Regions from separate parts of the Homo sapiens genome. Here all the other regions are linked to region 1. The links come from fine-mapping of genetic effects on gene expression. A gene starts in region 1. Each other region holds a variant in brackets. All regions are shown on one strand. Distances are from middle to middle.

Region 1 (6,049 bases):
CACTTTTACTCCTTTACTCTTCTTTTAGTGAGGTCACAATAGGGAGTGGAGATAAATAAATGCATTTATTCAGATAAACTATATTTATAACCTTTCTCAATCTACAACCTTATTTACCTTGGTGTTGTAATTGGTTGTGAAACAGGCATCATTTTATGCTTTTGACTGGCCATTCCAAGCCATTCTGACAAGAAGAACTTGAGCAGAGACTGAAGATTGGCCTTTTAAAATTTTATCTCAAATCACTGACAATTCTGTTTAATCTGGACTCCTGCCTTTACATTTTTCTACTACACATTTATAGAGTTTTAAAAGTTGTTTAGTCCCTGAGGAAATCCTGTTTGTGTCCGCTAAGCATACTCAGATGCAGAAGTATAAAAGAATACCTAAGCTACTTACTATAAGTCATACAAACAAGATGGCTAAATATCAATTAAAATATTTTATTTAAAACATTAAAACTTGGGGGTTCATACTTTTCCTTAAACAGTGATGCCTTGGCAATAGACTGAATAAGTTTGAGGATCTCATTATAAAACCAAGCAACAATTATTTGTTGAAGTGCCTGAGTTGATACCTGGAGGAACATGAAGAAAATGTGAAATATTGTTCTTGCTCTTCTCCTAGACACTTAGCCATGCCCTGTGGAGTCCTAATTTGATCAAAAGCACAGGCTTTTCATTTGATACATAAAACTAAATCCCCTTCCTGCCTAGTTGGTGAGACATAGTTATATATGAAAAATACTAGCAATACAAGACAACACAACACAACTAAGTGTTTAATCATCAGTCAGAGCCAGCAAATACTATGACATCAGAACAGGAGGTCAAAGAGAGTAGAAGCAGATACCACAAATATTTATTGAGTTCTCATAAAGTCTGTGTTTTAGGTGTCCTGGGAACACATTATTGAATGAGAACTTTCTAGATAACTTGGCTTGGTCTTGAATAATGCACTGGATTTATACATGGGGAGAAAAAGAAAACAAAAACAAACACACATCACATGAGCGGATCACAACACTGTGACAGAACTGAGACCTGTGTGTGATATAGTTTGGCTCTGTGTCCCCACCCAAATCTTATCTTGAATTGTAATCTCCGTAACCCCCCTGTGTCCAGGGTGGGACCTGGTGAGAGGTGATTGGATCGTGGGGGCTGTTTCCCCCAGGCTGTTCTCATGATAGCGAGTTCTCACGAGATCTGATGGTTTTATAAGTGTTTGACAGTTCATCCTACACACACATTCTCCCTCTTGCCTGCCACCAAGTAAGACATGCCACTTTGCCTTCCACCAGGATTGTAAGTTTCCTGAGGCCTCCTCAGCCATGTGGAACTGTGAGTCAATTAAACCTCTTTCCTTTACAAATTACCCAGTCTCAGTGGTATTCTTTATAGTAATGTGAGAACGGACCAATGTAGTGTGACTTGGAAGGGTGAGAGCGATGACCTGATTAGATTTGGTGCTCATGTTAAGAAAAAGCAGGGAATAAGTTTGGATTGTTGGGTGGGCAGAAGCCCACCAAGGTAAGAGAATTCTTAGTTTGCAGAAGAAAGAAAAACAGCACATTGTGTCACACAGATCTTTTGATGTAAAGCATGACTTTAATGCATTCTTATGATATTATATAGGGAAACATTTACATAGCCCCTTCATAACTGTAATATGCCCTAGTTTTGTTTGTCAGTTTATTTCTTTGTTATTTACTCTACAAATAGTCCTTGAACTTGAGGAAGAAAAATGGGAATGGTTTGTGTTTTACTTAAATTATAAGATCAAAGATGGCAGATGATTTATCCAAAGCCCAGGCAAGTAGGAAAAGCTCCCCCTTCCCTTCCCCTTTTCCAGGATAGAAGAGAGTTGGCTGGTTACTTTGCAGGACTTAAGATGATCTTCATTTTAAAGAATCTGTATCAGCCTCCACTGTGGTAAGATGTGACTGGGATTTCAAGGTTTCCCCTGTCTCTACTGATTTACCTAAGTAGGACAGAGATTTCTGGGGCATGCCTGCCGGTGGAGGGCAGTAGGTCACTCAACTAAGAGCACAGTATTGTTGAGAAAATGACACTAAAGTGGTCATCTGGGATGCTACTTCGCTTTTGGTAAATAACTTTGCATCAACTTCTCAAGTTCCACCTCTCAGTGGAGACGGATGCTAGACAAAGGTACCAGACACCGCAGCCTGGTCGGCTGAACAAATGGAGTTATAGCCTTAGATTTTGTTTTCGTGATGACTAAGCTGACCAGGTTTCTTCTTTGTCCTTGCACACTTTATGCTTGACGAGATGCTTAAGCAAATAGAATAGGCGACCGCTAGGAGGTACCCGAGCTATGCGTCGGCCGCCGGGGCGAGCAGAAATGGCTAACAGCGACTCTCTCGGCTCGGTGGGTCAAGGCGGGTGGTGCTTTTCCAAGGTCGGGGTTGCGATAAGCTTATCGCTTATCACAAGCAAGAAGGGCAAGAAGGACGTCTAAGAACCAACGGTCCTTTAATCTAAAAGGCCGCGCGCCTCCAAGGCAATGTGACATCTTGAGGTCTAGTGTTTGGGCACCAGCTGCCTGCACATCTGGATGCAGCACTTCCTTTCAGGGAGGAGGCGAGGCGGAGGACCCCGGAGTGCACGCACCTCCTCGTGCGCGCGCTCGCTTGCGCCCGTGAACGTGTGTGTGTGTGTGTGTGTGTGTGTGTGTGTGTGTGTGTGTGCGGGCGCGCGCGCACACACACGGGCCGCGGCTCCGGGACCGGCTAATGGGGGTGGGGGCCCAGGAAGGAATAAATCTCCGCCAGCCTCCTCGCGCCTGGCTGCGGGTTAATATCCAACCAGCTAGAGAAAGACTAGGGTGACGGCAGCAGGGTGACAGCCTGGGCACACCGGCCGCTTGTCGAAGGATCAGGATATTAGCCAGTCTCCGCCACACTCAGGGACTGATATATTTCTATTGGCGGGGGGCTGTTGGTTTTTATTGTCTGCCGTTATCTCCAAAGAACAAGGGCACGAGTGAGGGGTGCGCGCTCTGGGCGAGTGTCGCGGCTCGGATCGGGTCGAAGGAGGCAATTTTGCGGGTGGGGGAGGGAGGGGGAGACCTTGATTTCCACCAATCCCCGGGCGTTTGTCTGCGAAGTCCGGGGCGCAGCGGAAGGCTGCGGCGCGCCGCTGAATTAACTGATGAGAGCGAGTTCTTTTCTTCTCCGGGAGGGGTGGGGAGCGAGGGTCCCGGCGGGCGAGGCGGAGGAGCCCGGGGCAGGATAGCGGTCCCGGGCCGCCGTGGAAATTTCCAAGGACTTGGTGCGGCGCAGAGAGCGCGTCTCGGGGCGGGGTGGGGGGGGGGGGGTTGCCTGGCGGCGCAGCAGCGCGGGAGGCGGCGAAGGGCGCAGGAGCATCGCTCGGAGGGGACAAGGGGACGCCACGGGCCACATGTTTAGGAGGGAGCCGAGCCTTCTCCCGGACCCTCGCCGAGGGCGACCGTGATGCTGCAGAACCGGCGGGAGCGACTCGCCGCCGCCGCTCTCTGCGCACTCGGAGACCCCAGCGCCCGCCTTCTGCAGGGGAAGCGACCATGGCCATAGATCGTGACTTCACCCCCAGCCACTTCCCCTAGAAAGAAATCCTTGGAAAAGTTGCATTTGAAAAAATCCTTGCGCTGACCTTTGGGGCCGACGGGGCCGAAGAAGCGTGCGTGCGTTTGCAAGTAAGAGAACCAAAGGTGTGTGTGCATGGGGGGCTGGCGGTGGGGGACCCTCCGCTGCCACTTCGCCTAGCTTTGTGCTGAGGCCCCGGCCCCCGCCCCTGGGACGCCGGGGCTGCGATGAGCCCCTGCGGGCGGGCCCGGCGACAAACGTCCAGAGGGGCCATGGCTGTACTGGCGTGGAAGTTCCCGCGGACCCGGCTGCCCATGGGAGCCAGTGCCCTCTGTGTCGTGGTCCTCTGTTGGCTCTACATCTTCCCCGTCTACCGGCTGCCCAACGAGAAAGAGATCGTGCAGGGGGTGCTGCAACAGGGCACGGCGTGGAGGAGGAACCAGACCGCGGCCAGAGCGTTCAGGTACTCCTGCCCTCGCGGCTCCTCCCCTCTAGCGTCCTTTCCTCCCCGAGTGCAGAGGACAGGGTCACCGGCGAGGACCGCCTTGCACCGTCTCGCAGAGGCATCCCTTTCATCCGCTCTTCCATGTCCTTTCCCTCCATTTGTGCCATTCCCAACCTGGAGACTTTAGTCAGGGTTCCTTCCCCACCCCTGATCCCCAGAGATGTGCAGACACCTGCTTTGCGCATGTAAAGACTCGACGCATTTCTTCCCAAAGCGGAGTTTTATTTAACAATTTACGGATAAACAAAACAGAGGGAAGGAGAACCCAGGATAACTTAGTCTCTTGCACTTAATAAGAATTTACCTCTTGGGCTCTGCAGACATTTGAAGCTGTAGGGAACAAGAAGCAGGTAAAAGGCATCTCCCCGAGGTGGAGTGCACAGTCGGTAACATAAGTCCCCAACGTCGGAGTGATGGGCAGTGGAAACATGGACGGATCCCGCAGCTTTGCGCAGTGTGCCCACAGCAAGTGCATAGTACTGACTGACGTCTACTAAGAGACGATACTGTGCAATTTTTGTGTTGAAATCTCGAACAGCTGTCTAGTATTATTATCTCATCTTGTTGACCACAAATTGATTCTTTAGAAGGATGAGTAACTTCCCCAAGGTCATTACTTTTGACCTGTGGGTGCTGGATTTTTCATCACTTAAAGCTCCAAAGCTCCCAGCTCTTTTTATTGGCTTAGGCTGTGGATGCCTCTGGAAGATGGGAGATGTACTTTAAGTAGGCACCTGAAGTCAGAAAACAAACAAAATGCCCAAGCCAGGTTGGAAATCAGAACTCTGAGGATCACTCAGAGGTTGTAGATCCGCTTCCTTTCTGGGAATTTTAGATTAAATGTCTAAAAATAAGTTACGGCAGCAGGGGTTGTGTAGTTAGATTGGAGGGAAGGCAGAGCTGCTTCCCCTTCCTCTCCACCTCCCCAGGCATGTTGAGGGAACACACGGGTGCTTCCACCACTGCGAGGTGCCCCTTTCACCTTTAGTCTCTGGGGCTGAAGATGCTGCTGTTGGCTTCTTCCTGTGATTGTAGTGGTCTGGGTGGTTGGAAATGATCTCCTCTGCTCTGTAGAGGATCTTTCTAATCAGTGCAAGGGCAGGTGAGTTCTAATGTAAACATTTTTCACTGCAGTTATTTACAAATATTCAGGAGCATCTATACATTTTTAAAAACTTTTTAAACATATGGTTTCCATCTCCTTCTCAGGCCTCCTCCTGGAAAGAGGATTAAAAAGATAACAGAGCCAATTTGTTTAGAGGAAGGCAACTGCATTCTCCTTGGAAGGGAGGACTTTCCTTCTCCCTTTTTAGAACTCTACCATCATTGAATTTAAAAATAACCTCACTCTTCCTAAAAGTATCTAAGGGTTAATTTTTTCTTTCCTTCACAGTATTGATTGTGGGACTCAAGAGCAGGCAAAAGGCATCACATCCAGCAATTATTTTCCCTAAAGACAGAAAGCACTTTCATTTCAAGTGATCTAAGGAAATGAGTTAAGAACTTCCCATTGGTTTGCAATGAAAGAGTCCATTTTTTTAATATAGGAGGAGGAATAATGAAGCCCTCTTAGAGGATAGATTTCTTGTTGGAGGATACAGTCAAGTGGAAAATGCTTCAAATTCTGAGACACACAGGCTGATAGTTTCTGAGACACATTTGTTCCTTGCTTTCTGTAGCCTGGAGTAATTTTCAGTGTGTTTGGCTGTTATCTGGTCTGGTCTCTATGTGCAGAGAATTACTTATTAAAATCCACACACTATGAAAACTACCTAAACACATATCCCTCAAAGTTAGTGGCTGTAAAACCATGTAAAAGGCACCATTGCTTATTGAAATAAGTTTGAGCTTCAGAGTAGAATTCTGAATTTCTACACTGAGTATGCTGTGACTAGATAAACAGCAGAGAATCTTTGGCAAGTTAGTATATTTTTTGAGTCCTGGCTTTCTTGTTTATCTAC
Region 2 (6,049 bases), 70 kb after region 1:
TAAACCTCTTTCTTTATAAATTACCCACTCTCAGGTATGTCTTTATTAGTAGTGTGAAAACAGACTAATACATTTGGCCATGTGCCCTTTGTTTGCCACAGTCTCTAGCACTTCCTATTGCCTTCCTTCCACTCGTTTATGTTACCCGCTTGAATTGTGTAGGCATTTCATTTTGCACCTCTGGTGTGCTAGACTTTAAAATAATCTAAAAAGCTCGTCTGTGGATCATTTAGCAATTTCCTTAACCTTTCTGTCAGTGGTCTGAAAAAGGGAACAGGTTTGCTGCATTTGCTTAGATAGATTCTTGGCATTTCTCCAGAAAGTCTGGGGCTGGATTAAATCAATTAATTAATGAAAACATCTGTATACCTATGTGGTAGGCTCTGGAGACACTAAGAGTTACAAAGACATGGTTTATACCCTTGAGGGGCTTATTCGCTGTTGTGGAAGATGGGTGTACACAACAGTAGCTAGTCAAGTGTTACCCAGTGCTAAGGGCCTAGAATGTCTGCTTAGTGAGACGGACAGTAAGTGCAGTAGGTGTTTCTGTGGGAATGGGCAGGATGTGCATGCCAATCCTGGAAGATGACATAGGTCAGGGAAGGTTCTAGGGAAGGAAGACCTCAGGTCATATCTGAGAGTTGGCAGATCAGGTGGATCACAAACATCACTGTGCATGTGAATTGTATCGTGTAGGGCAACTTCAGATTCCTAAGCTCTACCCAGAGATCCTATTTCTAGAGGGCTGAAGTAGACCAAGAATATGCATCTTTAATATGAATTCCATGTGTCTCTGAAATATGTGAGTTACACTGTGAAAAAAGGGTAGACGATAAGCCAAGCAGGTCAGGAGAAATAAGTAAAGGTAGGAATGTGTGAAGGTAATTTACAGGCTGCAAAACTCAGTTGATTGGATGCTTGTATGCAGAGTCCTGAGAGATAATTAAGGCAGGAATACTGGGAAGAGAAGGATGCTCTGGAAATCACTTATTTTCCTTTTTATCAGTAAGAAAGGATGGCAGATACATTTTATTAAATTGGGGAAATAAAGCATCAGCAGCAGCCAGTTATTCCCAAAAGGAATATTCTCTGCTTGGCTTATTTATCTTTTAATGGAATAAAATAGTTATATATGAGACAATCAATCATGGACATGCTTTTTTTTAAATGAAAATAATAGTTAATTAGCAGGCAATTGATCCTGGTCCTGATAGTTCAGGTGCCTAGTCAGTTAAATTGGATTAACAGTTTAGCAGTCTGCTGCATTACTTACTAAGTAATTGCACACTATTTATAGTTGAAAACAAAATGGATGCCCTAATTGATACCACCTTTTAGTGTAGCAAATACTGAACTGAAGCTCACAGTTTCTGACCCAGCATCTCATACAGTGACTGGTATATGGTTAGTTGGCACTCAATAAATACTTGCCAAATGTTCTTAACTGAAACTTGCTTGGTATTTGTAGTTCTTCATTTCTGAAAAAATGGAGTTGGATTTTATTCATGGTTTTCTACACCATCAAATTCCTTGGGGTGTCTAAGTGTCACTTCCAGAAATAGAGAGACCAAGAAATTGGGGAAGGGTGCCCACTTTACCTCATCTTCTCTTTTGTGTATATGTGTGTGTGTGTGTGTGTGTGTGTGTGTGTGTATACTTTTGTGTATGTGTGTGGGTGTGAGTATGTGTACACACATTTTTTCAAGAGACAGGGTCTCACTCGGTCACCCAGGCTGCAATGCAGTGGCACAATCATAGCTCACTGCAGCCTTCAACTCCTAGGTTCAACAGATCCTCCCACCTCAGCCTCCCGAGTAGCTGGGACTACACGTCCATGCCATGATGCTAGGCTAATTAAAAAATATATATTTTTAGTAGAGACAGAGTTTTACTAGGCTGGTCTCAAACTCCTGGCCTCAAGCAATCCTCCTGCCATAGCCTTCTGAAGTTCTGGGATTATAGATGTGAGCCACCATGCCTGGCCTATATATATATATATTTTTTTTTTAAATAGGGGTTTTCTGGTATAACCTTGTCTGAGAAACAATAAAGGCTTCGATTTTGAAGCAAAGAAAATAACAGTAGCAACAGTAATAAGTTTGGAAGTCTCTGAAGTATTGAATAAATGATTTGTTTCAATTCCACGTGCATTTACCGGCCACTGTGCACAGCTTTAATACATAATCTCATGACTCATGGGGCATAAATGAATTCCGGTGTGCCTCTTGTCTGCTTGAGTTTTTTTTAGCATTCCTTGCACTTGTAGGGAATTTTATTGGACACTGTACCTGCAGACCCTTCATAGATCTTAAGGTTGAAAAATAATTTGGAAGGCAGGTAATAGAGTAGAGAAAGTAAGGAGAAGGGGTGAGGGCGAGCCATTGAAGCAGCTTTAACAGAGGTAGGGAGACAAGAAATTCAGGCTGTGTCTGAGGAAACACAGGTGCGTAAAATGGTGTGGAGGGAATATTGGGTGTATGCATAGATAACCAGCTGGTAGAAAAGAATGAACAGGAAGTTTAGGGTGTTGAGAGGTCCTGGGTGGGTGCTTCAATGAAGATCGGAAGTGTTTTTGTCTGTGGGCAAGGGAAAACATGGTACTTTTTTTTTTATTAGAAAAGTGATTTGCACTAGCTTTTGTTTTAGAAGAATTAGGATATGAGAGTGAAGGATTGATGA[T/C]AGGCAAGAACTAGAGGCCAATTTACAGCATTAAACCATTTTAAACAATAGTTACAGTGAGAGTGGAAAGAGGAGAAGAACAGAAGAGCCTCTGCAGAGGGAGGTGTTACGTAGATATTAAGAGAGAGGTGAGCAAAAATGGCTCTGAGATTTCTAGGCTGTGTTGCTGAGAAAATGTTGATCTCTTAAAGATAAAAATAACAATTATTGATCATTTACCTTGTGCCAGACATAAGTCATTTAATTCTCACAACAACTGTAAGAAGTCAGTACAGTTGTTACAAGTGAGACAACTAAGGCCCTAAGGTTAAATAACTTGCCAATTGTCATAGGGGAACATTAACAGCAGGGACTGGATGCAGGCAGGCGGGCTACAAGGTGATGCTCATCAACATGAAGATGTGCTTTCTGTATTTGGAGAAAATGAATCTTTCAGTGGTATTTCCAATGAGGGGATTGCAAGTATGACGTCTAGCAATGGCATGAAGCTTAGTACTTCCTGCTGCTGCTTATTCCGTGTTTTGCTCCACTGCTAAGATGATTGGCCCTACCTTTGAAATGTTGGGCCTGCCCTTCGTATTTCCTTCCCTTTCCATCATGAAAAGAAAACAGTTTTGAGGACTTTTAAAATGTGGTCAACCTCTGCCCTGAAGTATAGACACAGTCTTTGTCACCTTATGGTTCAGAAACAACATCAGTAAAAAATTTCAATTCATTGGGACTTGACTATGAAATGTTTAATAAATCTGCTGCATGGGCACATGAACTGATGCCACATGAGTTGTATCCAGAATAACAGATCATATGTGAAACATACAAAACACTTTTTGGAATGCTTTTGTGTTATTTTTTATAATGGATTGAGTAAGAAATTTTAATAGGCAAATAGCATCCACTATATAAATATTCACATCATTCAATTTCCAAAGAAGCATCCTGTGTAGAAAGCATAACACTGAAGCTATCCTTTTAAAATCACAATTTTATTAATAGAATGGGGAATACAAATCTTAGCAGCTTTCTGGAAATTTGTTTTCATATAATTGAAGAACAGTTAAAAGTCCTTGAGTGGTAGGAAACTACAAATATTCTATAATTAACATGTACAAATATATATCTTAAGGGAAAATTATGTGTAACGTTTTTTAAAGGGTTTAATAATTAAGTACCTATAATGAGAAGTTTTTTTTCTCTGAAATAATTGAACTAATTACCAGATATTTTCATCATAAAATGCTTACGTATGCAAAGTAAGAAAACAACTGAAATTTTAATTTGGACTGCCAAGGGGCTAGTTAAATGACTGAAAAAGCCAATACGTGTTAGTTTACTTACTGGAAAGAACCAAAACTGCTTTTGATTTGGCTGCATCTTGTTATTATTTTGTTTGTTTAGCTGGGCACCATGCTCGCTAGGAATTCGCTTGTGGGAATTTGCCAGTCCTTAACTGAAGTAATAAAGTGACTGGGGTACAGGGATAAAGAGATGTTCATGTGAGGAGTATTGTTGGAGAGTTGGGGGCTTGATTGGTGCACTGGTTAGAATGTAATTAGGTCCTGGAGCAGGGCAGTGCAATTAAATATGTTAAGGAGGGCATAATTAGGTGGGAGGCTGAATGATGTAATTACATTCATAAGAGGGGGGCTATAATTAAATATGAGGCAGGGGTGTGTATTTAGATGCCTAAGTTGAGGATATAATTAACATATGGGCAAGAAATTAAATTATGTGTGTGGATGAAGCATAATTGTGTGTGGGAGTCCAGGAGGATACGTGGGTGAGGGTATATAGAAAGAAAAGGGTCGGAATGCAATTAGATGTGTGAGTTGAGTTCTTATGGTCAAAAACTTGAGATTTTCATTAAGAAGGGCAAACATATGTTTTGACATCATGACTGATAGCAGGTGGCATGTAGTGACAGCCTTTCAGACCACTCTGAAGGCTTGCAAAGCAAACTCTGTGCTTTTCCAATATGGTTTGAGACCTGCAGCTAACACTGCTATTGATTCTTCTTGATTGTGGCACTTGGTGCCACAATTCTAAATACTGAGTGTCTGGATAATTTTTCTAGCTTTAAAACACAATTACATGACAAGGAAGACCTGCTCCCCCTTCCTGTCAAAGAGAAAAGAGTTTGGCGGGGATTACTAGGGCAAATAAACACACAAACAAGAACAACAAAACCTTCTTGCCACCAACAACCAAAACACCAATTTTTCTTTATATTGCCAAGTGTGAAAGTAAGCATCACTCTTTTAGCTAAAAGAGTATCACATAAACATAAATGTGTAACAAAATCAACAAAACTTAGTTATGATAGCCTCATTATTTTAAATTTCTAAAACAATACGCTTTCATAAATAATTTTGGCATCCTCCCAACATATAAAAGCAACAAAGCAACAAATGTAGGCTGCAGATAAAAGAGGAACTAGGGAGTGGCAGAAGGGAGCCAGGAGAAGAATGATCACAAGCAAAGTAGGTGAAAAATTACTCAGCGCATCTCAGAAACTAAGCAGTGAAGTATGGTAAGAGTGATCATAATAATCTGATATATCCTATATTAAACTTAAAACACGGAGACTCCTGTTGTCGTCTTCAAAAGCTAGAGAACATTTCGAATATCTGTTCGTTGCTTAGATAATTGTTGAAATTAAACATATTTAATTGGCCAGTAGTCTGCTTAAATTGATTCAATCTAGCACTCAATTCTCATAAATACCAGAGCCTCAGAGCCTCCTCATATCTGTTCAGGCCTTAGGTCAGTTCTGACAGAACTCCACTATTGATAAGATTCCTGGTGAGCTGGTTGCTTCGGGGATTCTGAAGTTTTTAGATTCAAAAAGAATCCGAAAAGGATTCAAGAAATCTATATTTAAGGTTAGTTATTTTTTATAACGTGGAGGTAAGGACATTGCAGCCTGCCCGCAATCTCTTGTTCTGCCCTTTAGTGGTTTTAAAGAACTTCTTTTTAATTCTTAGATTTTGATTTCATACCAATGCATGATGCTGATTTTTAAAATTGTAGACATGCCTCAAAGGCAGCCTCTCACAAAGGCTCTTGTAACTTAATTTGTAATCAGAAGTGCTCTTAATAAAATGTTGTGCATTCCTGTGAAAATTACTGTTGCATCCAATTCTCTATCCACTAAGTGGTTTACATTTTCTTTTTCTCCATGCACTTCCTACTTTTTGCCCTGCCTCCCAGACCAGCTCAGACTCTGCAACAATGAATGATTTATGGTGGTTAACTCATGTGCTTCTAGAGGTCACACAATTATCATTCAAGACATCTAGTTATGTCTGTGGGTTGGAAGATGAGTAGGTGTAAAGTCTCCTTGTGCCAGTGGTGGAGGTCAGTGCCGGCTCTG
Region 3 (6,049 bases), 84 kb after region 1:
ACATATGGGCCTTGAGCTGGCTCTGGGAATGGTGCGTTGAACAATTCTATAGTGGATTTATATCCTAGAGATGTGTTTGCTACCGTGGGGGAATTCAGACACACGGGAGCTTCTCAAGAGAAGTGGCGTGTGAGCTGAGTCTTCTCTTCGTTTCACCCTAAGCAGAGAAACAACCTTTCCCAAGAGTCCAAGGTGGGAAAGATAGCAAGTGCTGTTGCAGTGTCATGAACAGTGGGGAAAATGGCTTGAGATGGAGCCAGAGAGGTATTGAAGGCATTGGAGTGGAGAAAATCACCTAGAGAGCATGAATAGGTGAGAAGAGCAGGGAGTCCTGAACCACCTTCAGGCACCCTCTCCAGTACTTTGGCATTAGGTGAGGCTGAAGAGCCAGCAAAGAACACAGCGAGATAGGAGACAAGTCCTTGCTGTTGTTGACTAGGTCTGTGACCTACAGTGCATTATTTTACCCTTGCTGGGGCCCAGCTTTCTAATTTGTAGGAGGAAGCGGGAGTAGGCAATTCCTCAGGCCCTTCCCATTGTGGCAACTCTTACTCTATCTATGACTGTATGAATACCGTATCATTGTAACACCGTTTATGTAGTTTAGTTTAAATTTTCAAATTGCTCTTGAGTATTATTAGTTTTTGTGCTCTTCCCAAAAATTATGTAAGGAAGAAGGAATACGTAGTATTCAACTCACAGATTCAAAGAAGTGATTTCAAGTGGCCTTGATACACGTAGAAATGTAAATACACTTCGTGCAGTACAATAAGTGTATTTTTGTATTCATGAGTGTGTATGTGTGTGTGTCATCCATTTGTGAAGATGGACGTTTACTAATGTGTAGAAGACTAGGCTTAGGCACCATAGAATGTTATCTATTGTTTCCAGTGGGCCATATTTATCACAAGTAAACAAGACTTTTTTAGCCTTATATGCAATCTGGTGTTGATATAGTCAAGTTCAGAATTAATGAACGCTTCTGATTAGAGTGCCTGGCACAGTATTAAGCATAATGTTTCTAAAATATGGGGAGATGAGGGTTGAAAGAACTCAAAGAAGGTAGCACCATAACTAGAACTATGTATGCGTATGCCTTTGATTTAATTTCAAGAATAGTTCTGTTTTATGACACATTTTAATGTTTAAAAGCCTTATGTATGTTTTAAATTATAGGAGTAATAAAAGTTGATAAATTATTTCAAAATTATTTGACCATTTGCAGATCTATTAATAAATCATTGCTTAATATGCATTTTGGGGCATGCTTAATGTATCGAGATATTATATATTCAAAATTAAACATTTAATGAATAAACGTAGATTAGAAAGCATGTCGTATGTCTGGTCCTAGACTGTAGGGTGTGTAATGGACAGATACAGTGAGAGAGAACATCCAAAAATAGCACTGCCTGTACACAGTGATATACCAGATTACAGTTCAAAGTGTCTTCTAGGACTAGGATATAATAATTTCATAATTTTCTTTGCTTAAATGTTTTCAAACACATCTTCTAGTGCTGAAAATCAATTTCCCATTTCTCAAAGTAAACATTTGCTCTGTAGCCAAAAGCAGTACTTTAAAAAATAATATCATTGAATTCAATTTATTGGGAAGATTTGCCAGACAAAAGTTAACAGGGATTGCATCCTCAAAAGGAACTGGTTGGCTTGGGGACATGAATGAGGGAACATAATTTTGGTGCCTTTTGAATTATGCTCAAATGTATGTTTTGCCTGCTCACATATACAAAAAAATTAAAGTAATTTCATGATTTTTCTGCTTTAAGATTTCTTTCTCTCAAGCCCATTTCCCACTTACTTCCACATCCCAATTCAAAGAATATTCACTTCTCATTAATTCTCTGATCAGATCTCTTTTAGGATCATGAGCACAGTTGCTAAGACACTTTAGTCATTAATATTTGTTAATTGTGCCAACAGCGATAATGCAAACTTTGAAACATTTTACACCACAATTATGCCTTATTAAAACAATTTGACTGTATTAAATGTGCCTTTTGTGTACATCTTTGTAATTATCAATTTATGAGTTGAGGAACTAAAATTATTGGTGTGCTTTTCCTGAGAGAAGAGATACAGGAAAGTGTCACAGATATTTGCACTTAGAGAAAAAGTTTACCCAGAAGAACTTACACCAAAATGTATTGTCATTATTTTCTGGAAATACATCAAAATTCATATAAAATGTTATCTTCATGGTTTTAAGCATTCACCTCTGTTCTAGAAGATAATAAATACCTGCAAGTTTTTATTGGGCTATTACTCTGTGGCAGTAAATATGAAAAGACCCAGACACATGAGCCATGGAACACACAGGAAAACAAAGTATTTACTCATGAAAACCAGTTTGTTTAATAATGACAAAACATGTTGACAGTACTCTCCAGCAATACTCAGAATTTACAGTTTTAGCGTAACATAGCTGATTCTCACCTGCTTCCAAGGGCAATTAAGATCAAAGCTTCTTTAAGAGATAAGTATCCAAATTTTAGTCTGTGTTTTATCCTGGAAGTCATCTTCCTCTTTGCAAAGATCAATTAAATCACAAGACCACAATCAGTTACCACAGCCGGATGAGCCTGGCTGTTAATGCATAAACTCACTCCCTCATGAGAATCCTCAGGAAACCACATG[G/A]GATATGGGGCAACCACTTGACTGTGGATACTTCAAGAGTAGGTTCTCTGACTTGGGCTCCACCCCCAAGGCCCCCATAATGCCCACTGTGTTTGCTTTCAGTGGGCATTCAGCAAAAGCCACTGACTGGTTAACTGACCTGTTGGTAGCTACCAGAAAAACCAGTATCTTATCACCGAAGAGCAGATAAAAAGAAGATTCTAAATCAACTGAGACAAGTTTCTGCCTAGGATGCCTTGATGTGTTGATACTCACAGGGTAAATAAGAGACAAAATCAGAGAACTTGAGCTGATCAGCTGAGTGGGTGCCTGGATACTGAGGGTAATTTGTAGGGAAAATTTAGTAGTTGGGGAACTAGCAGAGACTGCAATATTTGTAAGATATCTTTACCTACAAGTAAATGATGCTTTGGTTTACTGAAGTAATAAAAAGTTACAGATGCCCTAATGTGGTAGGAATCAAGTTAGACATATGGTTGAAGAGGAGAAATGAGGACTCAGTAATAAAAGAAAGCATAATGGAAACTATAGGCGCATTTGGCATTTTCATAGATAATAAATACATATTTAATTATTTTTGTATGCTATTTCTGACCTGTGATATTTTTGAATATTTACTAAGTGTACACATCAAGGTTGGGGAATTTTTATATTACATACCTTTTTTAGTCCTTAACAACAATTCAAGAAAAGAGGAAAAATCATTATCCTCATTTTGTATAATGGAGAAACTGAAGTCAGGCAAATGAATTAACTTGCCTAATGTTCCACAGGCAGAAAGCCATGGGATTTGAATTCGCAGTGGTCATATTTCCCATTGTAAGCATTCATAAGACATGGTGGCCAAGGAGAGCAACTGGGGCAGGGTGGGGTTTTGGGAGTGGGAGTGGGGTGGCTGTTCCCATCACCAGGGAAACATCACCTGTACTCTTTCCTTTGGCTGAACTGGGATGGTGGATCACTGCATTTCTTTGGATGATGAGCCATTATACCTTCACCAGTAATCAGCCTACCCATTGGCCACACACACACAAGTCAGACATGCTGTGATTTAAGTGAATAGTACATGGCCCTGAATGCACTCTTATAATTTTGATTTTGGAAAAAGAAAAACACAAGAAAATATATTAATTCCTCCTTGTCTTTTGAGATTTATGGGTGTGCAGAGGTACTGTAGGTCCCATGTCCTCTAGTGTATCACACTGTCCTGAGCTTTAATTCAGGTCTAAGAATGTCTGTCCTACCCTCTCAAAAATATTTTGAATGGAATAAATACCTCCTAGTTACTGTCTCTTTCTTTTTGTAGATAATTTGCCCCTTTGGCTGACATTATCTTTCTTACTAAACAGGAGTAGTTTTTATGACAGCATTTGGAAGATGCTGATAGTTAATTATTCATCCAATGTCTATTAAAAGGGAGAGGTGGTAAAAAACAAAACAAAACAAAACAAAACAAAAAACAGTTACTGGCTGGGTGCAGTGGCTCACGCCTGTAATCCCAGTACTTTGGGAGGCCAAGGCGGGCAGATCACAAGGTCAGGAGATCGAGACCGTCCTGGATAACACGGTGAAACTCCGTCTCTACTAAAAATACAAAAAAAATTAGCCGGGTGTGGTGGCAGGTGCCTGTAGTCCCAGCTACTCGGGAGGCTGAGGCAGGAGAATGGCGTGAACCCGGCAGGTGGAGCTTGCAGTGAGCGGAGATCACACCACTGTACTCCAGCCTGGGCAACAGAGCGAGACTCCATCTCAAAAAAAAAAAAAAAACAAAAAACAAAACAGTTACTCGTGAATTCAGCTAGAATTAATAACATTTCTATTTGTATTATTCTAACTGATGATTTAAAACTATGCAAATTGTTCCAAAATGTTTGTTCTTGTTTCTCTAGATGCAATCTCCCTCCTTTGTCAAGTGAATACACTAAGGATGTTGGATCCAAAAGTCAGTTAGTGACAGCTAATCCCAGCATAATTCGGCAAAGGTAAGAGTTTATGACTTCTGTTTGTGACGAACGAAGATGAAGTCTTCTCAAGTACTTAGCATTTCAAAGGCAGTGAGCATAATTCAGTTTGGGAAATCAAGAGGAAAACCATCTGGACAGGCAGGAAGGATGAAGGGAATTGTAAATAAAGAAAACAGGATTATGGGAATCCAAACAATATTTTATGCTTCCTCTGGGATTCTGTTTCTTGCCTTTAGAGATGATAGAAATAACAAGAAGATCAATTGTTTTGCTCAAAGAACAGCACAATACTCTGTTTACTCATTACTGCTACTTTTCAATTTGTTGGCTTCAGTCCCAATTTATTGATTGGCAACTGTGAACTGAATTAATATCAAGAATAAAAACAAAGCAATGGCCAATCCATTACATTGCTTTGGCCAATTCATACATGCATTAAAATAGCAATATTGTCAGAATGGACAAGAATATGTGGTTATAGTATACTGTATTACATTACATTATATTATATTCAATCATATTTGGGAGAGCAGATGTAAAATTCTTGTTCTAGGATCAATTCCAGAAATCTTGAAATTGCCTGGAATCTTGGAAGCTGCTGTGGGAGCTGCGGGGGTGGGGGAGGGGGTCAGTCTCTAATTGATGAAGTGCATCAGCGAGCTATCAGCTGTTTCTCCAAGGACTGTTCATTGTAGAGAAGGAGTCCGTCTCCAAGGAAAGAGGAATCAAGCATTGCTTTAGGTCCTCCTGTGTCCCTGGCAATTAGGAGGGAAACATCCAGATGTTCTGGGCCCAGGCGCTTGTCATCTAAGTCCCGTCCAAGTGATCAGCATGTGTGTTCACTTATTCACAACGTGGCACTACTTGTTTTGGTTCATAAGTATTCCCATAAAATAGATATCTAGAAATGCAATCAGCTTTTAATTTTGGGAGATATTGTTAAATTACCCTCCCCAAATGTACCATTTATCTTCAATAATGGATAAGACTGCTTGTTACCCATATGTAAAACAATACTATTTGTGGAAAAAAAGGATACATTATATTCTACTTAATTTGCATTTTTCTGAATATAATAAGAGCTGAGTGGTATTGACTATTAGTATTTTTTCTTCTGCTCCTTTGTATTTTTTGCCTACTTTCGACTTGCTTTAAAAAATATTTTTCTATTGATTTATAGGAACTCTATATTATGGATATTAAGTCTTTGTATCAAATATTTTATTCTAGCCTGTCACATATATTTTAATTTATATTCTATTGCAATTTAAAATTTTTTATGCGATGAGACTTGTTAGTATTTTCCTTTATGGCTTCTTTTATAAAAACAATCTTTCTTTGGATGATCTTTCTTACTCTGATGCTCCTCCCTTCCCTGAAAAAAATATCCTGAATGTTTCTAATGCATTTATAGTATATATTTAGAA
Region 4 (6,049 bases), 21 kb after region 1:
TCCAATTGAAGTCATCTGTTTTGTGACCAAGAGTGTATGAGAAAGCCTGTTTTTTTTTCCCGATACTGAATGTTATCAACTTTAAACAATTTTGCCAATATATAGGTGAAAAATTATAATTGTATTGATGAGTGAGACTCAGCTCTCTTTTCCTGCGAGGGGCACATTCATGTGTCTTAGCCACTTTCTTCTTGGGTGGTTCATCTTTTCTTTTTTGATACTAAGTGTTCTTTATTTGTTAAGGGAATGTAGTAGACGTTTTTGTCACATCTGTTGCAAATATTTTTCTCAATTTGTCTTATGACTGCTTACGTTTATGTTTGAATTTTTTTTCCATAACGACTTTAAAAATTATCAGGCAATCAACCTCATCAGTTTTTTCTTTTATAGCTTTTGAGCCTTCGAGTCATGAATCGTGCAGCCCAAAACATTTTCATCTGGTATTTTTATGATTTAACTTTTTGCATGTAAATTTGAGATCTATCTGTGATTTGTTTTAGTATAGTGAGGTAGAGATCCAACTTTTTCCACAAGATGTTACTGAAACAAAAACAAAAACAAAAATTCACCTCTCCCCACTAATTTGTAATGCCAAGTCCATCCATTCTAGATAATCCAATATGTGTGGGTCTATTTCAGAAGTCCCACTTTTCTTCCATAGTTGTGTCTCACTTGTTCTTTTCTAAAGCCATACCATAGCTTTATAGTACATTTTAATATATGCTGGGCCAATCACTGTTTCTTTGTCAGAATTTTCTGTGCTATTGTGTCATATTTTTCTCTCAGATACAATTAAGATTGTTTTGCAAGTTCAAATGATTCTTGTTGAGATTTTTTATTTGAATTTCACTCATTTATATGTTATTATTAAGAACTGAAACTTCTTGTTTAAGAATATTTACTTGTATATTTAATTCTTATTTTATTTTCCTAAACAGAGTATTTAGTTTTTTTAGAATTCTATCTTTTTTAAATATTTAATTTAATTTTATTTTAAGTTCTGGGCTACATGTACAGGATGTGCAGGTTTGTTACACAGGTAAACGTGTGCCATAGTGGTTTGCTGTACCTATCAACCCATCATCTAAGTTTTAAGCCCCTCAGGCATTATCTGTTTATCCCGATGGACTTTTGACTCTAAGAACAATGATTTCACCATACAGCATTGCCTGTCTGTGAGGGGAATTTTTTTTTTTTTTTTTTTTACATTAAGGGGTTTGTGAATGTGAATTTATTTGCTTGCCCTAACTACTCTTATCTCTTCTGGATTGTTCAGAGGTGTTTAGTTCCCTCATTACTTCAAGGTTTGCTGCTGCATATTCTCCTCTTGCCCTTCACTATAGGTTCTCGGTTTGAAAGGAAACACAGCTCACTGTGAGATGCTTAAATCAAAAGAATCTGGTTTCTGGAAATGTCATTATTTTAGGAGGGAGCACGGGAGGTAGAGAAGGAAAATAGTTTAGATTCTTGTGGGGAAATGGAAAGCAAGAGGAAAAATAGATGTTCTGCTCAGAAAGGAAACTTCTCTAGGTTTTAAAAATCAGTACGTGTTAATTTTGCTATATTTTCTCTAGCAGTGGGATTACTGCATGAATCTTACTGGGAGAAAGAACGGTTGCTCTAAACCAAGTCCTCTGTCAGTGAAGCACAGGTCTGTGATGGGTGGTTGGGATGGGGATGAATAAGGAGTAGGAAAAATGACAGAAATAGACGCTTCTTATTTGCAAGTGATAGAATTTACAACTCTGTTTAGCACTTTTTTTTTTTAAATTCAACGAGTCATTATTGAGTTTCTACTATGAGGACAGCTTCAAGGGAGAATATAAAGAAAGTGTAAGGCATAGTCTCTGATCTCCAGGTAATTGTAACTAGTGGGTCAGACAATTAAATGCTGGTACTTGGTAGCAGAGAGGAGTGCTGAACTTAATCTTGAGGGTGAGTGGGATTTGAATTGGCAGAGAAACAGTCATGCATATTCTGAGCCTGAGAAAAATCTGAGAAATGGTTTTTGGTTGAGAGTTAGCTGAATGGTTGGTTTGAGCAGCATTATGTGAGTGGGAGAAATGAAAGAAAACCTTGGGCGGTTAGGATGAGCTTCAGTTGGAGTTTGAGAGTTATCGTCAGCTCTGGAGTATGTAAGTAACATGGTAACTGTGATTAGGAGCATGAATCTGGGAGAAGTACGCCTGGAGCCAGGGATGTGAGTTAAGAAACAGTCATGCCGAGAGCCCAGTCTAGAGTACAAACAATGGGAATGGCATAGAATGGGCAGATCTAACAGACACAACAGAAAATCCTCCAGAATAAGGAAATGATTTTGTAAAGTTTGTGGAAGAGAAGGAAGATACACAATTCAATACTGGACAGGTTTGACACTACTTGGGTCCTCTTGCTCTATATCATGGAATGTGGACCAGAACTGAGTTTTCTTCTGCTAATTGAGCCAGTTATTCCATTTTTTTCTTTAAATTTTTCTTTAAATTGTTAGATAGGATTCTTGTTGTGTTCCTGTAGGTTTTATCAGTTATGCACTGAATTGTCTTCAAGTGATCCTCCCAGTAGATGCTCTGGTGACTGAAAAGTTAAAGCTATCACCATGATGGCATACGTTGAGGAGGAGGTTAAACACTGTGTTAGGAGGCATACTGGCTGGCTTTCTTCTCTCTGGGTTAACATATTTTGGCCTTGTGGGATAATCATGTTTGAGAGTTCTTTGATGGCTAAAAACATACCGTGAAGGGTAGTACTAGTGAGCATGGAGGAAGGAGGGGGAGAGTGCAGGGTTTCATGTAGCCATGTTGTCAGTTTCTCTGTCCTGTCCCATTTTGCAGCAGCTGTTTGTACATGTGGTGGGATTAAGCTAGCAGGAGTCTGGATGGATGGGGAAAACAGCTTCCTTGACATCCTTAATTGCCTCCTTTATCCCTCCTCAGACAAAGCAACTCACGGTTTTAAGGACCACAAAATGCTTATTCCAAATGCACCCCTTACCCTACAACAAACCCAAACATAGACACACCTACATGGAACAAATGCAACCAAAATATTTTTTAAAGAGATAGACATTTTAAAGAATGAAAATTTCTACATTTGCATTATGAGCAAATACCAGGGCATAAGTTGAACATATCTGCTGGTGTCAGGTATCTGGACACTGATTG[G/T]TCAGTCCATATGGCCTGGGGCACCTTCCTGCTGGCAACACATGCTCATGGCTCCATAGACATTCCTGGCATGTTCCAGATATAGCAGTACCTGTGTGAAAGTTAAAATCATTAGCGTAAAAATTGGTAAATTGGCTTTATGCATAAATTCATCAATATGAGTGCAATTAAGTATACGTTCCAGTGATTCTTTTTTGTTGTTGAACATCGAGGGTATCCAGCTTAGTTGTCTAGATTCACTGAAATAGGTGACATTTGTGGACAAATGTTTATCCAGGCCCTTTGGCACAGGCTAGAATCCTCTTGCTTCTCATTTTGAGTGTATTTGGCCATTATCCCATTTTCTATGCCTCATGGTTTCTGTGTGGAGATAACTCCTCCAACATTTGTTCTGTTCCTTTCCTATTTCCTTCATTGGCAAAACTCAAGTGTGTTTATTTGGTAGCTTGACTGCGCTGAGCTTTCTTGCCCTTTTATCTTACCTGTTTTTACTGTTGTTGAAAAAAAATGAACTTAAATAATACTACTGCTGCTAATGCCTAAGTGGTTGAGAAATGTGACAGTTTCCATGCAAAGGGGTTTATATGTATGAGCTTTATTAGTTCTCTCTACTAATGTATGAGGGAGGTACTATTTAATTTCTATTGTGCAGTTGCGAAAACTAAGGCTTAGAGAGGCTATGGAACATACTCAAGGTCTCATATGTAGTAGGAGATAGGGCCAGAATTCACATTTGGTATGGCCTGCCTCCATGAGCTCGGACTCTACCAGCGCATTTATAGATGATTCATATTTAAACTGTAAATTTTACAGATATGTCTCAAATTTAAAAGTTATTCCAAAATTATGGCATAAAATATCAATGTAAATTATCATCTCTGTATACCAAAGGGTTAGACCAGTAATTCACAAGAAATGAAAGTTTTTTGCTAAGCTAACTAAAAGTTCTGATTAAAACTTTTAGAAGACTTCGGCATTGAAAAGAATATGGTATACTCAGTTTAGTAAAGTTTTGCTTGTGTCCATCGGGACCACTTTAATGCTTTTAGGAATTTAAATACCAAATTATTTTTACAAATTTATTGTTTTTTTTTTTTTTTCATTTCCGTGACGCCCCTACTTGGTTGCCACACCAAATACAAACAATCTGCTTTTGCTTAATCCAGCAATGACTAATTTATATTTACCAACAAGAGCAATAGCAATTGAAAATCGTAGCCAAGTCCCCATAACACTAATGATGCACTGAAAAAACATGTCTTTTCCGACAATTGTGGGAATTTCCAAACCGTGCATGTGTCTGTGCACAAAGGAAGCATTGTTCTGTTGCCAACTGCTGCTCAGCAGCCAGGCTTCTTTGGAGAATGTTGAATGAGAATCCTTGGTAAACTCTCACATGTGGCAGTTCTGGTGTTTGAATACTGAATTTTAATAACTCTTAAAATTAACTTAGTAGATTGCTACTAGGTGGTCCTCCATCACAAATAAAAATCAAAGTCTGGGGAAAGATGTGCCATTCATTTATTAGAACCTAAGAAGTGTCTTTTGGTTTTCTTCACTTCATGTCCTATTCTAGGACCCTGGTAGGCAGTATCCTGGCCAAAGGTGATCCAGGAGAAAGAGCCAGGAGGGGAGATTTTAACAGCTGGTTAGTTTATACGTTTATTTAGAGGAGAGGGAGGGTTTTATTAATGTTAACCCTCTACCTTTGGGGCAACACACTAGAATTTATGGGGAACATCATCAGCTCATCTCAGTTGTGGTTTATGTACCCACAAAGCCTGGTAGGTTGGGTGCTTATCAGCATCAACATTTTAGAAAGGAGCACCAGAGAAAAAGTGTAGGGGACTTGCCCACTGACTAATTCCTCAATTTTGACAGTCACCTTCATCCTTTTTGACTATGGGATGAAGCCTAAATTTCCTAGCCAGCCATTTAAAGTCCTTTGCAATGGAGGTCTTGCCTACTTTATGCAATTAATCTCCTACATAAACTATTATTGTTTATTTGCTTGCTGTGTGTACTCTGCTGATTGATCGTGCCAAGTACTGGTGATTCTGTTGATGCATCATGCACAGTTTCCCAAATTTAGGATTTAATGGGCTAGAGAATTGCCAAATAAATAAAAACATGAATAGTGTTGATGATTTTGTATTACAGCAATAAGGAAATTATAAAATACCACCATTTCATTGAAGCCTTTATATGTTAACATTTTAAAAAGTAGAAAGGACATCATCTCAGAATAAAGACCACTAATTAAAATAAACTATGAAAACCTCACACATTGCCTATATTTTCCTCATTTTGCCAGAGACAATTGAAGAAATAGCTGTGGACTGGCACTGGCCTGTGGTGTTTGGGAATGATGTTGCTTAGCCTTTTGCTTGTCTGAATAAATCCTTCTAGTCCTTCGATTCTCAGTTTACACCTTGACCTTAGAAATTCTTCTATCCCCCTCTACCTGCTGTCTTGCACCCCACCCACCCTTCCAATTATCTCTCTAGGTGGCAGTCTGTGTGTCCTCTTCCAAGTACTGATAAGATGTGCTGGGATAATTTGCTGCTGTCTCTTGCCACAAGACCATGAGATTCTTATGGACAGAAACTGCATCTTATTCACCTTCATTCCCAAAGTTTAGCACGTAGTCTTTGACACACACTCAGTGCATAATAAGTAGTAGGTGAATGAATGAATGAGTGATTACCTGGATGCCCTGCCTGTTCTTTGTGTTTTGCATGTCTTCTGTGACCTGCAGTTTTGAGCACATGGGATTTATTGAAACAAACACTAATATTCATTAAATTGAATTAACTTATGGGTTTTGACCTCATCAGTTCTTCTATTTTTCTTTGCTGAAGAAAACTAATTATGTTCTCCATTATCAG
Region 5 (6,049 bases), 250 kb after region 1:
CTCAATATGCATTTCCCCATCCAAGCTACCTTCCACTATTCCCCTACTGATTCTCTCTGTCATTTATATTTTTCACTCTTCTCTTCCTTTCTCTGCTCTACCCTTGCCCCTTTGTTGTCAATGAGTAACTGCTAAATGTGAATGATTCTTCTAAGTTTTATCAACCAGGACTTTCTCCCACCCAAGCATTTGTTTGTGGCTCACAGGCATTTCATCCCATAGTAGATTAACACCAGTTCTATGACAACCTGCTCTGATAGTCCCCAGTCCTTGCCCCTGTTATTTTTCATTTCTTCCTCATTGACTCTCCATAGACTCTTCGCTTATATTTTACTTTTCATATTTTATCATTTGAGCCTTGTGTTATTAAGTAAATGTCCACCTGCCATTCCAGTTTGTAAAGTTCTTGCCAATTAGAGTTCACATGCTGTTCATTTTTGCATCCTTCAGCACACCTAGCCAAGCACAGCACTCATAATAGATGTTTAACAAATGTTCATTGTGAATGAGCTCATGGACCAACTTAAATTCTATGTCTTCTGGAAAAACTCAGTTCCAATACTGCAACCCACATTGATCCTATTTTTGTATTCTCCTAGTACTTCATGTCTGCATTAGTCAATTCTTTGTTTTTAACCTAATCATATGTTCTCTTCCATTATCATTTAGCTGTTTCACATTGTGTAAACCTTTTTTCCCTCATTTTATTGTAAACATACAGAGAGCTCATAACCAGCCTCTTCGGGGACTGATGCAGTGTATTTTCCACAGAAATTGTTCAATAAATACGTGTTGCATGGAAGAATGAATTAATTAATGCATGATTTGAAGAATGAATAAACACACTCCTGTCTTTTTATCTACTGTGCAGCTTCCTGATCCTGTAGGCATGAATGCTTAGTGTCACCTAATTCTTTGCTTTTCCTCCACTTTCCAAATCAAACCAGTCACAATATGTTATTGATTCTTGCCTTTCAGTGCCTCTTAATCCATTCTGAGTGTAATAAGAAATTTTACCCATCCTCCTTCAAACATAAAGGTAAGCAAAAATCAGTTATAAATTATAAAACTAGCCCGTAGCTATTACCTATATGATAAACACATCTGGCAGACAGGTTGGTGGGTTTCATTCAATGTATTTTAGCCTTTTCTCTTTGATAATTTCTCCTTGTAAAGTGTAAGACTATAGAACAGAATCTCTTTCTGCCTTTAAGCAGCTCATTCACAGATTTATAAGATACCATTTAAAGTCAGGTGTATTAGTCTGTTTTCATGCTGCTATAAAGAACTACCTGAGACTGGGTAATTTATAAAGAAAAGAGGTTTAATGGACTCACAGTTCCACAGGTTTAACAGGAAGCATTACTGGGGGGCCTCAGGAAACTTACAATCATGGCGGAGAGCAAAAGGGAAGCAAGCACGTCTTATGCTTGACAGAGTGAGCGAGGGGGGAAGTGCCATACTTTTAAACCATCAGATCTCATGAGAACTCACTCACTATCATGAGAACAGCATGGGGGAAATCCGCCCCCATAATCCAGTCACTTCCCACCAGATGCCTCCCCTGACACATGAGGATTACAATTTGACATGAGATTTGGGTGGGGACACAGAGCCAAACCATATCGTGTAGTTGGAAATCAGTGTTAAAGAAGGATAATGTAGCATTTAAACAATGTTCACATTGGTTTTATTTATTTTTATACTTTAGTTTAATAAAAGAATTGTTGGTTTTTTCCTAGATGCACAGGTACAGGCCTAGGTGGAATTTCCATTTAGCAGAGGAAATGGCCCTTGTGGCTACTTTCGATGAAAAGCAACATGACACTTGATGAATAAGGAGTCAGCCACACACCTAGCCCCATGAGTAACCAATTAGGAAACTAATTACAGGCAAATGCTGTGCCCCATTTAGATAAGAAGAGTGGATTGCCACATTTCCAAAGTATGAGGAACACAAGGTATAACTAAACAGATTTTTAGGTAAATAAATTTGAGCAGTTTTGGTTCAATTGCAATATAATCATTAGTAGTTTTAAATAATCATGACTCTTGCTATGTAGCTATGAGAGTTTACTCATCCCTAATTGTTGACTGGCTGTATATTATTGCTGGGATGAAAAGGAAATTCTCAAGCTGCAATTAATAACTGCAGTACACATCTGAGACAATTTGTATCTACGATAAACACGTATTTGTATGTATATTTCTAAAAATGTCCTCTTACTCAATTCAAATTTGCTATTTCTTTCAATGGATTATATCAGTTTACAGTATCAATTTGACTTAATAGAGATGAGAAGACATAGGTCTTTAGATGTTCTCCATTAGTTAGATTGCTCCTTCATTTTGTGAAAGTTTCACAGTCTACCGGGTCTGTATAAATGACAGCCGAAGGGAGATTCAGGCAGGTAGGGAGAGAACATCCTAGTGATGACTAACTGGGTTTTAGAAAGAGAGCATACTTCTGAGTAATTGTTCCAAGGGAATTTTAATTAAAGTAAATTAGTGTGACCAGCTAAATCTTGCTAGGTAGTACACAGCTGAGCTGGAAAATGATATAGAGAAGTTTATTTGCTCCAGACAGAAATATTTTAAAGGCATCGGGTAAATATATAAACTAATAATGTTAATTTTGCTTCAAAAAGCAGTTCTAGACAATTCAATAAATATTTCATTCTTTTGCTGATACAATAAAGGCCAACTATCCCATCTTATGAGAGTCCAGCTTCTAATTTCAACTGAGGTTATAATGCTTCTGTACCTAATGGAGTAGTATCCTCCCTGAGATTCATAAAACCTAAATAGGAATTCCTTGAGTCCTCTACAAAATGTAAATAAAGCTGAGGCCCAAAGAGTAATGAGGCTGTAGTGACAGCCCTTGCCACAGTACTCCTTCTAGGATGCCAATCAGCAAAGGGACAAGTATGGCAGGAAGGACACCTAGTCAGTGGGCTAGTCGGGCCTCATTTGATATACGAAGGGTAATCTGTAGGCTCATATGAACTCTTGGCCTCATTC[A/G]TAAGTGTTGGCTCTACAAAGGCTTTTCTAGGCCTGGGTTTCTGCTATAAAATACAAGACATGAAACTTGAAGTAAACTTAAGAAGTAATATATTTATTTCCATAAAATGAGGAAGTAGTACAGAAAGACCCCTTGAGGGCCCATCCAGGTCAGTACCATTTCCACGCCCTGAAATGCCTCCCTCAGGGACACCACCCCTTGGAAACACAGAGAATAAGGAATGCAGTGCAAGTGTATGGAACAGGATAAAGAGATGTGAGGTCACTCCCCAGCCACAGTCATCTACTCTGGCTCTCATAGGTACTTCAGGTTTTCTGCTAAGCAGGCACAAAGGGGTTTCATTTTGAAGAATTATCCCACTATTTTTTACAGTGATGAAGGAAGGATAGGAAGTCCTTTAGAAGGGACTCCAGGAGCTGTACCAAACTCTGAAAATACTGATGATTAAGCCACATGGGGTCATCTCTTCTGAGCCTCCATACAGAAGTGAAGGGTGACAATTAAATAAGAAAAGTGTGACGATAGAGGTCTGCAGATATGAATCTGTGTGTTGGGGGACCCAGGAATGGGGCTCAAAATGAAGCCTCAGAGGCTGCAATAGGTAAGCAATGTTTCCTCAGACACAATAGGTACACCTAATGTACAATTGTTCTGGTGGGCATGTGTCCAGCATGCCCACATAGCCAGCTGGGTCTCATCTTTTGCAAAATATGGCCCTCTGGCCAGGTGGATCAGGCATGAGCAGAGAGACTATGGCTGAACTTGACGGCTCCTTGACAGATCCCTCACCCTCTTTATGGTCCAAAGCTGCCCAGTCTCCAGAGCCACAAAACCAGCCTTAGTTTAATGTTGCCTAGAGGGGTCATAGTCCAACTTTTTTAACTTCATTGGCATTCTTTTCCCAGTTGTACATTCATATCTTTTAGACCATTTCTCAAAGCACATTTTGCAAAATATCAGCATGCTAATTACCTCTGAAGTAATTGTTTAAAATTCCATTTGGGAATTGTTGCTCAAGAACAGTAGTAGTCAACTCCGGCTCCACATGAGAATCACAGGGGAAAAATATTTTTAATAGCAATTATCTGGGCCTCATACCAAAAGACACTGGTTTGATTGGTCTGGGTTATTCTAGGCATCTGAATGTGCTGGAAGCTCCCCACAGTGACTTGAGTGAGTTAGAGTCTCTTCCAACGAACAGGTGTATGTCTGGAGGCAGGTGGGCGGGATGAGGCCACCTGAGGCCTGTTGGTAATCAGGAAGAAAGTCTCCAATGCACACGGAGTACCTATTAAAAAGACTATAGGATGGTTCCTGAGCCTGGATTCCATCCTGCTGTGCTTTCAGAGGGCTGCTCTCTCTCCTTCCTTTCCAGAAAAGGGGGCCTTCACAATTTCATTCCTCTAATAGATTCTCACAATTCAGTGTGCATAAAAGTCATCTGATGGAATTTTACTAACATGCCAATTCCCAGACGTTATCCCAGAAATTTTGATTTAGTAGCACTGGGAAGGTGCTGGAATATATATTTTAGCAATTACTATATGATTTTGATGAAAGTGGTTGAGGGACCATCTTTGAGGAAACACTGCCTAAGCCTTCGCCAAGGTATAATCTGCTACCCTTGGGAATGTTCCCTGTCTTAAATTTTGGATCTAGCACCTAGTGTCTGGCCCTGGGTATAATCATTAACCTTTCTGTGCCTCAATTTCCACACCTGTAAAATAAATGAAATAAAAGTGCTTTATAGAGGTTGTGAGGATTAAAAGAAATTAAGATAGAGGTCATGGTAATGGCCTGAGGTAACCAGGTGATAGATCTGGGTAGCTTAGGGAATACGTGTGTGTGTGTGTGTGTGTGTGTGTGTGTGTGTGTGTTTTGAGACAGTCTTGCTCTGTTACCCAGGCTGGAGTGCAGTGGCACGATCTCGGCTCACTGCAACCTCTGCCTCCGGATTCAAGCGATTCTTGTGCCTCAGACTCCCAAGCAGCTGAGATTAGAGGCGTGCGCCACCATGCCTGGCTAATTGTTTTTGTATTTTTAGTAGAGATGGGGTTTCGTCATGTTGGCCAGGCTGGTCTCACAGCCCTGGCCTTAAGTGATCCACCTGCCTCGGCCTCCCAAAGCGCTGGGATTACAGGCTTGAGCCACCGCACCAGGCTGGGAATACATCTTTCTTTTCGGTTGGCGCTGGTCCTCTAGTAAGGCAGTAGCTTAATCATTTACGTGTCCTCTTTCTATCTCAGCCTTCCCACCACACTTCCCCACTCAAGGCTCACTCCAGACATTGTTAGAAGAAATTTTCCTTCTATCCATGTGATGTGTTGTAAAGAAAGACTAAAAAGTATCCAAATTGTACTTTATAAACAATTTCCTATAGTGGAGATTGATACTCAATGTATGAAGGTCAAATGATGAAGATGTACCATTAAGCCTCATCAGACTCTATTAGTTAATTTCAGTCAGCAAGTGACAACTGCACATTTTAAAACCTAGATCTGTGATGACACCCAGTGGCCAAAATGTCAACCACTGAAATTTTAAAAATACATCAAGTATTTTCATCAGCATACAAATAATATTGCATCAACTTTAAATTTTGAGAGCTATTCAATAACAAAGCATGAAAAGGTTCTACACTGGGAATGTCACCAATGAAATGTGGACAAACCAACTTTCTTTAGTACTGTATTTAGTAGAACTTTCCCAACCAGTTCAGGCAGATAAAAGCACCAGGTTATCAAAGGTGACACATTCCTAAAAAAAAAAAAAAAAAAAAAAAAAAAAAGCTTTTAAACTTGGAAAAAGTAATTTGCATCAGTATATAGCAAAGAACCAATGACCAAATGCAGGAGAGTACAACAGAGATTATTAAGACTTCACACATGGTCCTTTAAATAATTAGAAAATCATTAACATGCTTAGCTTGGCAATTCAGATAACAGTAATTACTTTAGCCAGTACCCATCCCAAAAGGTACAGGATATTTTGGACATTCTTTCACTTGCTCATTCAAAAATATTTCCT

Direction of the effects. Alleles are on the strand shown, and positions count from the first base shown. SD is a standard deviation of normalised expression in the study named. Not every link is listed here.
For the expression in subcutaneous fat of the gene that starts at base 3,336 in region 1, T is the high allele of the variant in region 2 and C is the other (moderate effect, 0.48 SD a copy in TwinsUK).

What was found. PIP is the estimated chance that this variant, and not a neighbour inherited with it, causes the effect.
Region 2: its variant is fine-mapped to the expression of ST8SIA1 in subcutaneous fat (TwinsUK, PIP 0.95).
Region 3: its variant is fine-mapped to the expression of ST8SIA1 in whole blood (TOPMed, PIP above 0.99).
Region 4: its variant is fine-mapped to the expression of ST8SIA1 in cerebellum (GTEx, PIP above 0.99). The same link has a PIP of 0.9 or more in cerebellar hemisphere.
Region 5: its variant is fine-mapped to the expression of ST8SIA1 in whole blood (INTERVAL, PIP 0.91).

Annotation. Positions count from the first base shown.
Region 1 is chr12:22,331,994-22,338,042 of GRCh38, reverse strand. ST8SIA1 (ST8 alpha-N-acetyl-neuraminide alpha-2,8-sialyltransferase 1) reads left to right here and starts at 3,336. Exons shown (of 5, transcript NM_003034.4): 1 at 3,336-4,046. The coding sequence starts at 3,811. LOC105369151 (a long non-coding RNA gene) reads left to right here and starts at 4,053. Exons shown (of 2, transcript XR_931426.3): 1 at 4,053-5,190.
Region 2 is chr12:22,262,453-22,268,501 of GRCh38, reverse strand. The region is part of intron 2 of ST8SIA1 (ST8 alpha-N-acetyl-neuraminide alpha-2,8-sialyltransferase 1); the gene reads left to right. Among named protein-coding and RNA genes, the nearest start is that of ST8SIA1, 69 kb to the left of the region's middle. The variant T/C (reference allele first, on the strand shown) is at 2,680.
Region 3 is chr12:22,247,597-22,253,645 of GRCh38, reverse strand. It overlaps ST8SIA1 (ST8 alpha-N-acetyl-neuraminide alpha-2,8-sialyltransferase 1), which reads left to right. Exons shown (of 5, transcript NM_003034.4): 4 at 4,548-4,640. Among named protein-coding and RNA genes, the nearest start is that of ST8SIA1, 84 kb to the left of the region's middle. The variant G/A (reference allele first, on the strand shown) is at 2,659.
Region 4 is chr12:22,310,926-22,316,974 of GRCh38, reverse strand. The region is part of intron 1 of ST8SIA1 (ST8 alpha-N-acetyl-neuraminide alpha-2,8-sialyltransferase 1); the gene reads left to right. It overlaps LOC112268093 (a long non-coding RNA gene), which reads left to right and starts at 1,029. Exons shown (of 2, transcript XR_002957409.2): 1 at 1,029-1,651. The variant G/T (reference allele first, on the strand shown) is at 3,162.
Region 5 is chr12:22,082,854-22,088,902 of GRCh38, reverse strand. No RefSeq gene overlaps it. Among named protein-coding and RNA genes, the nearest start is that of CMAS, 40 kb to the right of the region's middle. The variant A/G (reference allele first, on the strand shown) is at 3,022.